Linked DNA regions of Homo sapiens. Each later gene encodes a partner of the first gene's protein in a complex. Each region holds a gene or a part of one and is shown in the gene's direction. Other genes may lie near its edges. The genes, in order: CCNC, MED25 and MED16.

Region 1 (3,650 bases):
TGGGAGGCAGAGGTGGGCAGATCACTTGAGGCCAGGAATTTGAGATGAGCCTGGCCAACATGGTGAAATTCCCTCTCTACTAAAAATACAAAAATTAGCTGGGCGTGGTGAGGCACAAGAATCACTTGAACCTGGGAGGTGGAGATTACAGTGAGCCAAGATCGTGCTACTGCATTCCAGCCTGGGCGACAGAACGAGACTCTGTCTCAAAACAACAAAAAAAGTGGTAGTATTAACAAGTTTCATAGGTGTCTAATATTTTCTTTTTATATTTATTATAAAGATACTATGAAAAGCATTAAAAATATTTAGAAGATAGAGGGGAAATATTTATTCAACTTCCTTAATGGATGAATAATTTTTTCCTGTGGGGCAATTTCTGTTTTGTTGTTGTTTTGTTGTTGTTTATGCATACCTATATATTTCTTAACACATTTGCAAATCCTAGAATTAGACCACTGTGACTCACATAGAGCATGTGTAGGTTTTTTCCTTTGTTAAAAATGAACATAATTATGATTTAACCACATGGAAGTTACTGTTCAATGTTAATATTATAATGATACCAGAAGATACATTTAAAATTTCATTATTTGCCTTTTAGTTATCCAAGCATTAGGTGAACATCTTAAATTAAGACAACAAGTTATTGCCACTGCTACGGTATATTTCAAGAGATTCTATGCCAGGTAGGATTGTTTTTATTTTATTTATTTGAACTCTTATCTAATGTTGATGAACCTTAGCACAGTGTAAATGAATCATGTGTCTACCATAGAGTTATCTTGATTTTTTTCCCAGTGTGTTTTCTGTATGAATGATATTTAACTTTGTTTTATCATATTTTAGGTATTCTCTGAAAAGTATAGATCCTGTATTAATGGCTCCTACATGTGTGTTTTTGGCATCCAAAGTAGAGGTATAAAACAATTTTCTGTTCTTCATCAAAGTGTAGTCAATGTATGTTGGTTAATCTGCCCCAGTTTTCACATGGCCTATGTAAAATTAATAAATGGTAATTTATGCAAAATACTAAAATTGTACAAAATCAAAGAAATATATACATATCCTTATATATTCACTTAACAGACACATACAGCACTTACTGTGTACCAACTGACTTAATCTTTGTAACAAACTGGAATACATAGTAGTAGTATTCCCATTTTATAAATGAGGAAACTGAGACAGAGATGAAGAACTTGCTTAAGATGATATAGCTAGTAAGTGTGAGAGCCCGTGTTTGAACCATGGGAGTCTCGTTACCAATCCTGTGTTCTTAACTACTTTCCTCTGCTGCCTTTGAGACATCTATTGTTTGGCACTGAGTAGTATTCAGTAAGTACCACAGCTTGCCTACCATAACCTGAGAATGTCCCTTATGCTTCTCACCCATATGCTTATCTTCTCCTGTCTTCCCTCCCATCATCCTGATGATTGGCTGCCTACCAAGCCAGAAGGAAGGCAAGGATTAGGGGAAGCTATAGCTATATAGAGTCTAACAAGTAAAAGTTGAGGTTGTGAGCGTAGAGAAATTAGGTAAGGGAGAGAAGATAGATAGGAACTTGCGGCAGAGACTGAATTTCTGTTCAACTGTTTTACCTTTGTAGTATTTTTGAAAGAGCTCAGCTAAAGTCCAGAAAATAATAGCAGATATTGGCTGTTTTTCATAAATAATGTAGTCTTTGGTGGTGTGAAATCTTTGCATTATGTTTCTATTTTTGGATAATGTCTTAGAGTTCTATTCTTAGAGTTGTATTCTTGAATATTGAATGTGATTTTTACCTAGTAAGTTTACATTCCTTTTGGCACCCACTTTGATTTAGTTTTGTTTTAGCCATGATTTAAGGTTATCCATGACATCTTTCCCAACTGTTACCTAAATAATGACAATTGACTCTGTTAGAAATAATATTAAGACAAGCTTTCTAGAAGTTTATGTTTTCTAATTGTGAGTGGTAGTTTAAGAAGGCAGAATCAGTTAAGGTCCTTATTATGGATTGAGTTTTCTAATTCTAATAATTCTATGTAATATTTGATTTTATTTAAATATTACCATGTAATAATTTAAAGTCTCTTAAGCACAGGCAGTATGGAGGACCAAGACAAAAAATCTTTATAAACATTTAATCTTGTAGATTAATTTGAGGATTTTAATCTATCTTACTTGTTAAATATTGTTATGTGATTTACTGAGTAGAACTCTGTGATGTGATTTACTGAATGAAAGTTTTCCCTTTGAGTTTTGGATAAAGAATTATTCCTAGGCCGGGTGTAGTGGCTCACACCTGTAATCCCAGCACTTTGGGAGGCTCAGGCGGGTGGATCACCTGAGGTCAGGAGTTTGAGACCAGCCTAACCAACATGGCAAAACCCCGTCTCTACTAAAAATACAAAAATTAGCCGGATGTGGTGGCAGATGCCTGTAATCCCAGCTACTAGGGAGGCCGAAGCATGAGAATTGCTTGAACCCATGAGGTGGAGGTTGCAGTGAGCCAAGACTATGCCACTGTACTCCAGCCTGGGTGACAGAGCAAGATTGCATCTCAAAAAAAAAAAAAAAAAGAATTATTCCTGAGAAAGAGAATGTAGTCTTTCAGATTTGGTCGTAGCATTATTATTATTTTTTTTTTATCTCTGTGACCAAATCTTTCTGTATTTTCTCTAGTTTTATGGAAATTGTATGGAAAGCTCATTTAAGAACATGTCTCAGGCTTTTACTTTTTCTTTTCAGTTATTATAGTTGGAGGTTTAAATGTAAAACAAATATATTAGTACACATACATTTCCCCTACACAGGATAAGGATGTAGGCTGAAGGTATTTAAATAGATTTTTAGTTTAGCTCCTTTTGTTGGATAAGAAACCAACTCTTGATTTTTTTATTTTAAAATGAAGTGAAGGCTTTAGAAATCTTACGAGGCAATAAATGAAACAGTATATATAAGGTGGATCATAATAAATTTTAGTATTTTCACAATGGTGGTTGTTCAGTTGAAAGAGGAAATGGGAACTGACTTTGGAAGTCTTACGTAATTCCTGTCTCCCTGTTCTAAAAAGGATAGTAACTATTTATATGGTTTTTTTTTTTTTTTAGTTCTTTTGGTGATTAATTAAGGTTTATCTTATTCACAAATTCAACTGTTTTACCATAGAATGGCATGAAGTATCTGTTAATACAGGTTGAATTGAATAGGAAACATACTTAATATTCTTGCAATTAAGTATAGAATGTAAACAATCTTCTTGGAAACTAATTTAAATGGAAAAACTGACACTGTAACCTTAAGGCTTGGTTTCTAATTTGGTACCTTTTATTGTTATTAAATTATAAAATTATTTTAAAATATGTCTTAAGTTGTAGCAATTTGGGGGAGAGGTAATACAGGCAGAATATCCGTAATCTGAAAATCCTAAATGCTCCAAAATTTGAAACGTTTTGAGGGCCAACATGACATTCAAAGGAATGCTCATTGGAACATTTTGCATTTCAGATTTTTAGATTAGGGATGCTCAACCAGTGTAATGCAAAATATTCCTAAATCAGAAAAATCTCTGATCCTAAGCATGTCAGATAAGGGGTAATCAGCCTGTACATTTAGGAGTGTAAGTACTTCACACCTCAAGTAGTTAGAAGGTGAACAGATTGTA
Region 2 (3,650 bases), on another chromosome or scaffold:
GGGCCGGGCACGTAGCTGTAACATTTGAGGAACTGAAGGCTTGCTGGTCTGGAGGAGGGGCCTGGGGCTCATGGGACTTAAACTGGGGAACATCCTGAGCTTTGGGGCTACCAGGGTAGGACATGAGGGCTCAAGGGGACTGAGGCTTATGGCCCTTTTTACTGACATGCTCTTTTTTCCCCCTCAGAAACCCAAACCTGCCTCAGTGGATGCCAACACCAAGCTGACGCGGTCACTGCCCTGCCAGGTCTACGTGAATCATGGCGAGAACCTGTAGGTGACAGTCAGGGGCGGGGTGTGGTGGGGCTGGGGCTGGCCCCCTCCTCACACCTCTCCTGGCATCGCCCCCAGGAAGACGGAGCAGTGGCCCCAGAAGCTGATCATGCAGCTCATCCCCCAGCAGCTGCTGGTGAGTGGCGGTGGAGGGCCAGCCCTGCTGCCGGGCAGTCCTCACCCTGCTGTCTCTTTCCTGTTCCCTGCCCCACCCCCACTCCCTGCCTCATGTCCCCGCCTCACTTGCCCACACCAGCATGCCAGCCGACTTCTGTGTCTCCCGCAGACCACCCTGGGCCCTTTGTTCCGGAACTCAAGGATGGTCCAGTTCCATTTCACCAACAAGGACCTGGAGTCTCTCAAAGGCCTCTACCGCATCATGGGCAACGGCTTCGTGAGTCCAGGGCATGGGGGGCCGAGGGGTGTTGACTCTTGTCCTGCTTTCTGCTGACCTTTGACGGGAATCCCAGAGTGCCTGGGCCCACGGAAGCCGTTTTTGATGGTTGGGTGCACTTCATGCCCTTAGGTTCCTCGCCTTTCTTCTAGAGCCGTGACTTTTATTATAATCATCGTATGCACCAGATTTGAGGGATATTCCACATTAAAAATGTGAGCTGGATGTGACAGGATCAGTTAGGAGGAAGCTGTTGATTCTGGCATGGCTTTATGGGATGTGTTCATTTCCTGTGGCTGTGGTAACACATTACCACAAGCAGAGGGGCTTAAAACAACAGAAACGTGTTCTATCCCAGTTCTGGAGGCCAGAAGCCCAAGGTCAGGGTGTCAGCAGGGCCACGCTCTCTCTAGAGGCTGGAGGGAAGGCCTCTTCGTTGCCTCTTCCGGCCGGTAACCCCAGGCTTCAGGTGGCATCGCTCCAGGGTCTTCCTCCATCCCGCAGCTGTCTTCCCTCTGTGTGTGTCTCCACATGGCATTCTCTCTGTATCTTTGTGTCTGTGCTTATAAGGACATCAGTAATTTTGGATTAGGCCCCATTTTCCTGACCTCATCTTACTACAATTGCAAAGACCCTCTTTCCAGATAGAGTCACCTTCACAGGTGCTGGGGACTGGAACCTCAGCTTAGCTTTCTGGTTTTGTTTTTTGAGACAGAGTTTCACTGTTGTCAGCCAGGCTGGAGTGCAGTGGTGCAATCTTGGCTCACAGCAACTTCCGTCTCCTGGGTTCAAGCGATTCTCCTGCCTCAGCCTCCCAAGTAGCTGGGATTACAGGCATGTGCCACTATGCCCAGCTAATTTCTGTATTTTTTAGTAGAGACAGGGTTTCACCATGTTGGCCAGGTTGGTCTCGAACTTCTGACCTCAAGTGATCTGCCTGCCTCGGCCTCCCAAAGTGCTAGGATTACCGGTGTGAGCCACCGCGCCCAGCCTCAGCATAGCTTTCTGGGAGTCACAGTTCACACTTTGTAACTCGGGGAAGGAGCAGATCAGTTACTTCCGTGCACCAGGCACTCCTGCAGGAAAGAGAACCTTAGGGGGATCACCTCACGAGACCCTCACAGAACCTTGTGAAGAAGGCATTCCTGAGAGTTAGTACTTCCGGCTGCAAATCACGTAGTTTCCCAAACACATAGATAATTGGGGGCACTCGGAAAAAATGTTCTCTTATGATTCTGTGGGTCACCTGGGCTCAGTGGGCCATCTCGCTTGGCGACTCTCACGGGGTTGCCATCAGATGGCAGCTGAGACTCTGGTCATCTGAAACCTTTACTGGGCTGGATGTTCAAAACAGCTCCTCACACAGCCCTGGCTGTTGGCTGGGGCTTGGCTAGGACCGGCCATCCCAGTGTCTGCACATGGCCTGTCCACGTGGCCACACTGTGGCAGCTGGGTTCTGAGAGGGCAGGCGTTGTAGGAGCAGGCATTTATATTTTGCACAGGACAGGACATCTAGAGGGGGCCAGCTATTGGGATTGGTTTCATAGGTCTGTGACATCAGGGACAGGGCCCTGTGGTTCTCTTGGCCTCTCCTTTATAGTCACAAGGTAGCTCTCATGGCTCCACGCATCCTGTGTGCTTTCATGAAGGAGGGGAAGGGGGCTGTGTGTTTCCCTTTCTTCAAGACAGCAGAAACTTTCTCAGATTCCAGAGCAGGCATTCCTTTCACCTCCTATCCCGGACCTAGGCCACTGGGCAGCCCCTAGTTGATGGGAGGCTGCTGGGAGCAGGTATCCGTGACTGTCTGGGGCTGGGACATGTTACAGCCCCAGACAGCATTGGGAATGCAGGGGAGGAGGACACTTGGATATGGAATAGGCAGCTAGCAGGGTCTGTCTCAGGCAGGAAACCGAGGCTCAGAGAAGTCAATTCACTTGGCCAAGGTCAGCCTCGCCTCCCTCAGGAGCCCCTGCCCTGAATGCTCCATGTGTTACCCCCCTGATGACCAGTGATGTTTCCTGGGTGCTTCCTGTGGGCTGAGCCTCAGGCAGGGCTCTTGCTGTGGATCAGACATCGCATAGTCACAGCGACCCTGTGATGTGGGAGCACTCCCCGTGGTGTACACTGGCCGGTGCTGAGGGCTGGAGGATCTCTTGGATACCCGGGGTCCGACCCACCGTTGATCACAGGCCTGTGGGTACCACGCTGTGCATCTAGGCCGCTCTCCCGGCCGTGACCCTCAGCCGCCCTCTGAGGAGGCCGCCGTGGCATTTTATGCCCAAGAAACTGGGTCCATGAGGAGCAGGTGGTGGCTGAAGGTTGAAGAGCTGGGCTCCAGCACTTTCTCTCCGCTTTCCCTCTCAGTGGGCAGCTGGAACCCTAGCTTGCCCTGAGCGCCTCAGTTTCTGTCTCCAGAGCAACCCATAGCACACCTGTTCTCCTTAACCTTCTATAGCAGAAACCTCACCTCACCTTGCCTGTGGGGCCTCTAGAGCCTTCTGGAATGGGGAGGGGGTCAGGGCTGCCTCTTTCAGGGCCTGAATGGTTCTGAAGAGCTGTTGTCCACCCAGGCGGGCTGCGTGCACTTCCCCCACACGGCGCCCTGTGAGGTGCGCGTGCTCATGCTCCTGTACTCGTCCAAGAAGAAGATCTTCATGGGCCTCATCCCCTACGACCAGAGCGGCTTCGTCAACGGCATCCGGCAGGTCATCACCAACCACAAGCAGGTCCAGCAGCAGAAGCTGGAGCAGCAGCAGCGAGGAGTGAGTGTTGACAGTCCCCAAACCAGCACTCCGACCCCCTCCTGCCCGGGCCCCACATGGCCCCCTGGGGTCTCCAGGACCAAGATGCCCACCCTTCTCCCAATATGTGGTGCCTCCAAGCTAAGTCCCACTCAGATTTTCTTGCAGTCTCTCTCCTTTTTCAGCATCCACATCAAAGCCCTGACACAGCTTCCTCCTGGAGACCTTGGAGTGTACGGCAT
Region 3 (3,650 bases), on another chromosome or scaffold:
TATGTGCCTGCAATCCCAGAGTGTCCTCGAAGGACCTCAGATCTAACGAGCTCAGCCGGCAGCTGCACGTGGGACCAGCCCTCTGAGCTTCACTTGTTTTCCTCTGTGCCATCAGAAACCAATACGAAGATAAAATGGGAAAAAAAAAATCCCATTCACGGCACAGCCTGCCGAGAAACGCGTGAGACCCAGGCGGGGGCTGCGAGGCTAAACCCCAGCGTGGCTGGGATCCGTAGCCAGTGACAGCGCTAGTGATGGCGAGACCTCGCCCTCTCCCTCCTTGGGCCGTCGCTGTGTGCCAAGCGTTTCATTTTTGTTTTTAGTTGTTTCTATTTTTTGTAGAGATGGGGTGTCCTACGTTGCACAGGCTCTCCAACTCCCAGCCTCCAGGAATCCTCCAGCCTCAGCCTCCCAAAATGCTTCAGCTCATTCATTCATTCTCTCTAGACCAGGGTCTCCCCGTAGGCACCACAGACATCGGGGGCTGGAGCAGCCTCTGGGATGGGGGTGTCCTGTTGAGCAGCCTCCCCAGCCTCCACCCGTTACTTGGCAGGGGCACCCCCAGTGGTGACAACTAAAAATATCTCCAGACATCACCAGGGGCCCCCACCAGAGGCAGAGCCGCTCCCAGCTGAGAACCCAGCACCTGGTCCTGTGCGCCTGGTCTTCCGCACCTGTTTTGCCATGAGGTTGCTGAGGTGCAGAGGCGAAGCAGCTTGCCCAGCTGACCGAGCGCCTGGTGTCAGAGTCGAACTGCTCTTCTCCTCAGCTGGAGCCTTGGCGGGCGCCTCTGCTCCGGCCCCTTGGGGTGACCTGGCTTCCTGCCCTCAGGTCCTCTCCACCCGGATCCTGGCCATGAAGGCCTCGCTCTGCAAGCTGTCGCCCTGCACGGTGACCCGCGTGTGCGACTACCACACCAAGCTCTTCCTCATCGCCATCAGCTCCACCCTGAAGTCGCTGCTGCGCCCCCACTTTCTCAACACGCCTGACAAGAGCCCCGGCGACCGGCTGACCGAGATCTGCACCAAGATCACCGACGTCGGTGGGTCCTTTTCCACGCCCGGGGCCTCGAGGTTTCTTTCATCTATTTATTTTATTTTTATTTATTTTTTTTACTCTTTTGAGATAGGGTCTTACTCTGTTGCCCAGGCTGGAGTGCAGTGGTGCGATCTCAGCTCACTGCAGCCTCCGCCTCTCTGGTTCAAGTGATTCTCCTGCCTCAGCCTCCCAAGTAGCTGGGATTACAGGCACGTGCCACCACGCCCGGCTGATTTTTTGTATTTTTAGTAGAGACGGGGTTTCACCATGTTGGCCAGGCTGGTCTCGAACTCTTGACCTCAAATGATCCGCCCGCCTCGGCCTCCTAAAGTGCTGGGATATAGCCTAAAGGCTGGGATTACACCACACCCAGGCTTTTAGAGACGGTCTCACTGTGTCATCCAGGTTGCAGCACGGTGACGCAGTCCCAGCTCAGCGCAGCCTCTGCCTTCTGGGCTCAAGCAATCTCGCCTCAGCCTCTGGAGTAGCTGGGATTACAGACACGTGCCACCACACCCGGTTTTTAATTTTTTGTAGCAACAGGGTCTCACTGTGTTGCCCAGGCTGGTCTTGACCACCTGAGCTCAAGCGATCCTTTCACCTCTCTCTACTCCTGGGGGCTGAGACGCTCCCAGGCCGACACCCGGCACCCGGGTCCTGTGCAGGCAGGTCTGCTCCTCCTTCCGTTTTGCCGTAAGGGGACTGAGGCAGAAAGGCTAAGCAGCTTGCCCAGGCTCACCCAGCACGTGGTGTCCTACTCGCCTCTGCCTCCCAAAGCGCTGGGATTACAGGCGTGAGCCACTGTGCCTGGCAGGCTGTTTCTTTTAAAAATTAGGGTTGCTGGGCGTGGCGACTCGTGTGTAATCCCAGCACTTTGGGAGGCCAACGCGGGCTGATCACGAGGTCAGGAGATCGAGATCATCCTGGCTAACACGGTGAAACCCCGTCTCTACTAAAAATACAAAAATCAGCCGGGCGTGGTGGCGGGCGCCTGTAGTCCCAGCTACTCGGGAGGCTGAGGCAGGAGAATGGCGTGAACCCGGGAGGCGGAGCTTGCAGTGAGCTGAGATCACCCCACTGCACTCCAGCCTGGGCGACAGAGTGAGACTCTGTCTCAAAAAAAAAATTTAGGGTTATCGTTTGTCTGGAGTACCCGGTTGAGTGTGGACACGTGGCACTCCTGGTAGCTGGGAGCCGTGTGCACAGTCATGGTTAGTTCTGTGGGACCACCCTAGTCACCATCCGAGAGGCATCTGTTGGGTGTGTAACCGCCGCCAGCTGCCAGCCGGGGGTGGCTGCAGCTGCACGCTGTGGACATGCCCCTGTGTTCACAGAGTTCACCTCGGAGCAGGGGGCAGATGTGCACCAGCAGGCCGGGCCTGAGCACTGGTGGCCCTGGCATGGGGACCTGCCCACGCCAAGGCCTGCAGGCCGAGAGAAGCTGGTTGGTGCTGAGCACAGCGGCCCCCGGGGGGGGGCAGGCAGTGGGCTCCCAGTTCCTCTCCGTCCGGCAACGCCATCGCCCCCTTCTCGTTCCCGGTGTGGGTCCCCTTGTGTCCTGGTACTGGGTGGGCACTCAGTGCAGGTCGAAGGACCGAGGGGTGCAGTTAGGTCACCCTGTGTGTACAAGAGGCCCGAGCTGACCCGACCCACGTCTCCTTGTAGACATTGACAAGGTCATGATCAACCTCAAGACGGAGGAATTTGTGCTGGACATGAACACACTGCAGGCGCTGCAGCAGCTCTTGCAGTGGGTGGGCGACTTCGTGCTGTACCTGCTGGCCAGCCTACCCAACCAGGTGCGCCATGCTCTCCCCTAAGGCCCCGCCCCCCACCTGGGCCCCCATCTCATCAGGACCCCGCTTCCCTGCCCCTGCCCCTCAAAACCACCTCAGCCCCGCCCCTAGTTGGAGTCCCGCCCCTACTTGGAGTCCCGCCCCTACTTGGAGTCCCGCCCCTGCTTGGAGTCCCACCTCAGCCCCGCCCCTGGTTGGAGTCCCACCCCTACTTGGAGTCCCACTTCCTGAGTCTGTCTCTTCTTAAACCCCCACTTCCTAGCCCTGCCCCACTTCCTAGCCCTGCCCCACTTCCTAGCCCTGCCCCACCTCGGAGCCCTGCCCCATCTCGGAGCCCTGCCCCACCTCGGAGCCCTCCCCCACCTCGGAGCCCTCCCCCACCTCGGAGCCCTGCCCCACCTCGGAGCCCTGCCCCACCTCGGAGCCCTGCCCCACCTCGGAGCCCTCCCCCACCTCGGAGCCCTCCCCCACCTCGGAGCCCTGCCCCACCTCGGAGCCCTCCCCCACCTCGGAGCCCTCCTCTCCATGAAGCCTCTGCTGTAAGAAGCCTTTCCTTGGCCACACCCTTCCTGCCCATTCTCAAAGCCCCGCCTCCCAGGCCCTGCTCCTTCTCAGCCCCACCCCTACACGAAGGCCGGTTCGCCTTGCTTCTGCTGCTGCTGCCCCCACCCCTTACCCTCCCCAGCTCCCTGCGCCTGGGGTGGGCGGCCTTGAAATCAAGTCTCCATCCACACCTCCACCTTCAGTTCTGCGGCTTGTGCGCCCCTGACCAGGGCTCCAACCTCGCCCCCACCCCCCCGCCGGTACACTCTGTCC

Evidence for each region.
Region 2: CCNC (region 1) and MED25 share a complex: the UniProt entries of both Homo sapiens proteins name them as parts of the mediator complex.
Region 3: CCNC (region 1) and MED16 share a complex: the UniProt entries of both Homo sapiens proteins name them as parts of the mediator complex.

Annotation. Positions count from the first base shown.
Region 1 is NC_000006.12:99,558,636-99,562,285, reverse strand, and holds part of CCNC (cyclin-C), read left to right. Parts: intron 1-604; coding exon 605-689; intron 690-849; coding exon 850-919; intron 920-3,650. UniProt on the Homo sapiens protein: Component of the Mediator complex, a coactivator involved in regulated gene transcription of nearly all RNA polymerase II-dependent genes.
Region 2 is NC_000019.10:49,831,749-49,835,398, forward strand, and holds part of MED25 (mediator of RNA polymerase II transcription subunit 25), read left to right. Parts: intron 1-187; coding exon 188-273; exon of another isoform or gene 274-351; coding exon 352-409; intron 410-559; coding exon 560-667; intron 668-3,237; coding exon 3,238-3,429; intron 3,430-3,650. UniProt on the Homo sapiens protein: Component of the Mediator complex, a coactivator involved in the regulated transcription of nearly all RNA polymerase II-dependent genes.
Region 3 is NC_000019.10:872,636-876,285, reverse strand, and holds part of MED16 (mediator of RNA polymerase II transcription subunit 16), read left to right. Parts: intron 1-831; coding exon 832-1,042; intron 1,043-2,703; coding exon 2,704-2,837; intron 2,838-3,650. UniProt on the Homo sapiens protein: Component of the Mediator complex, a coactivator involved in the regulated transcription of nearly all RNA polymerase II-dependent genes.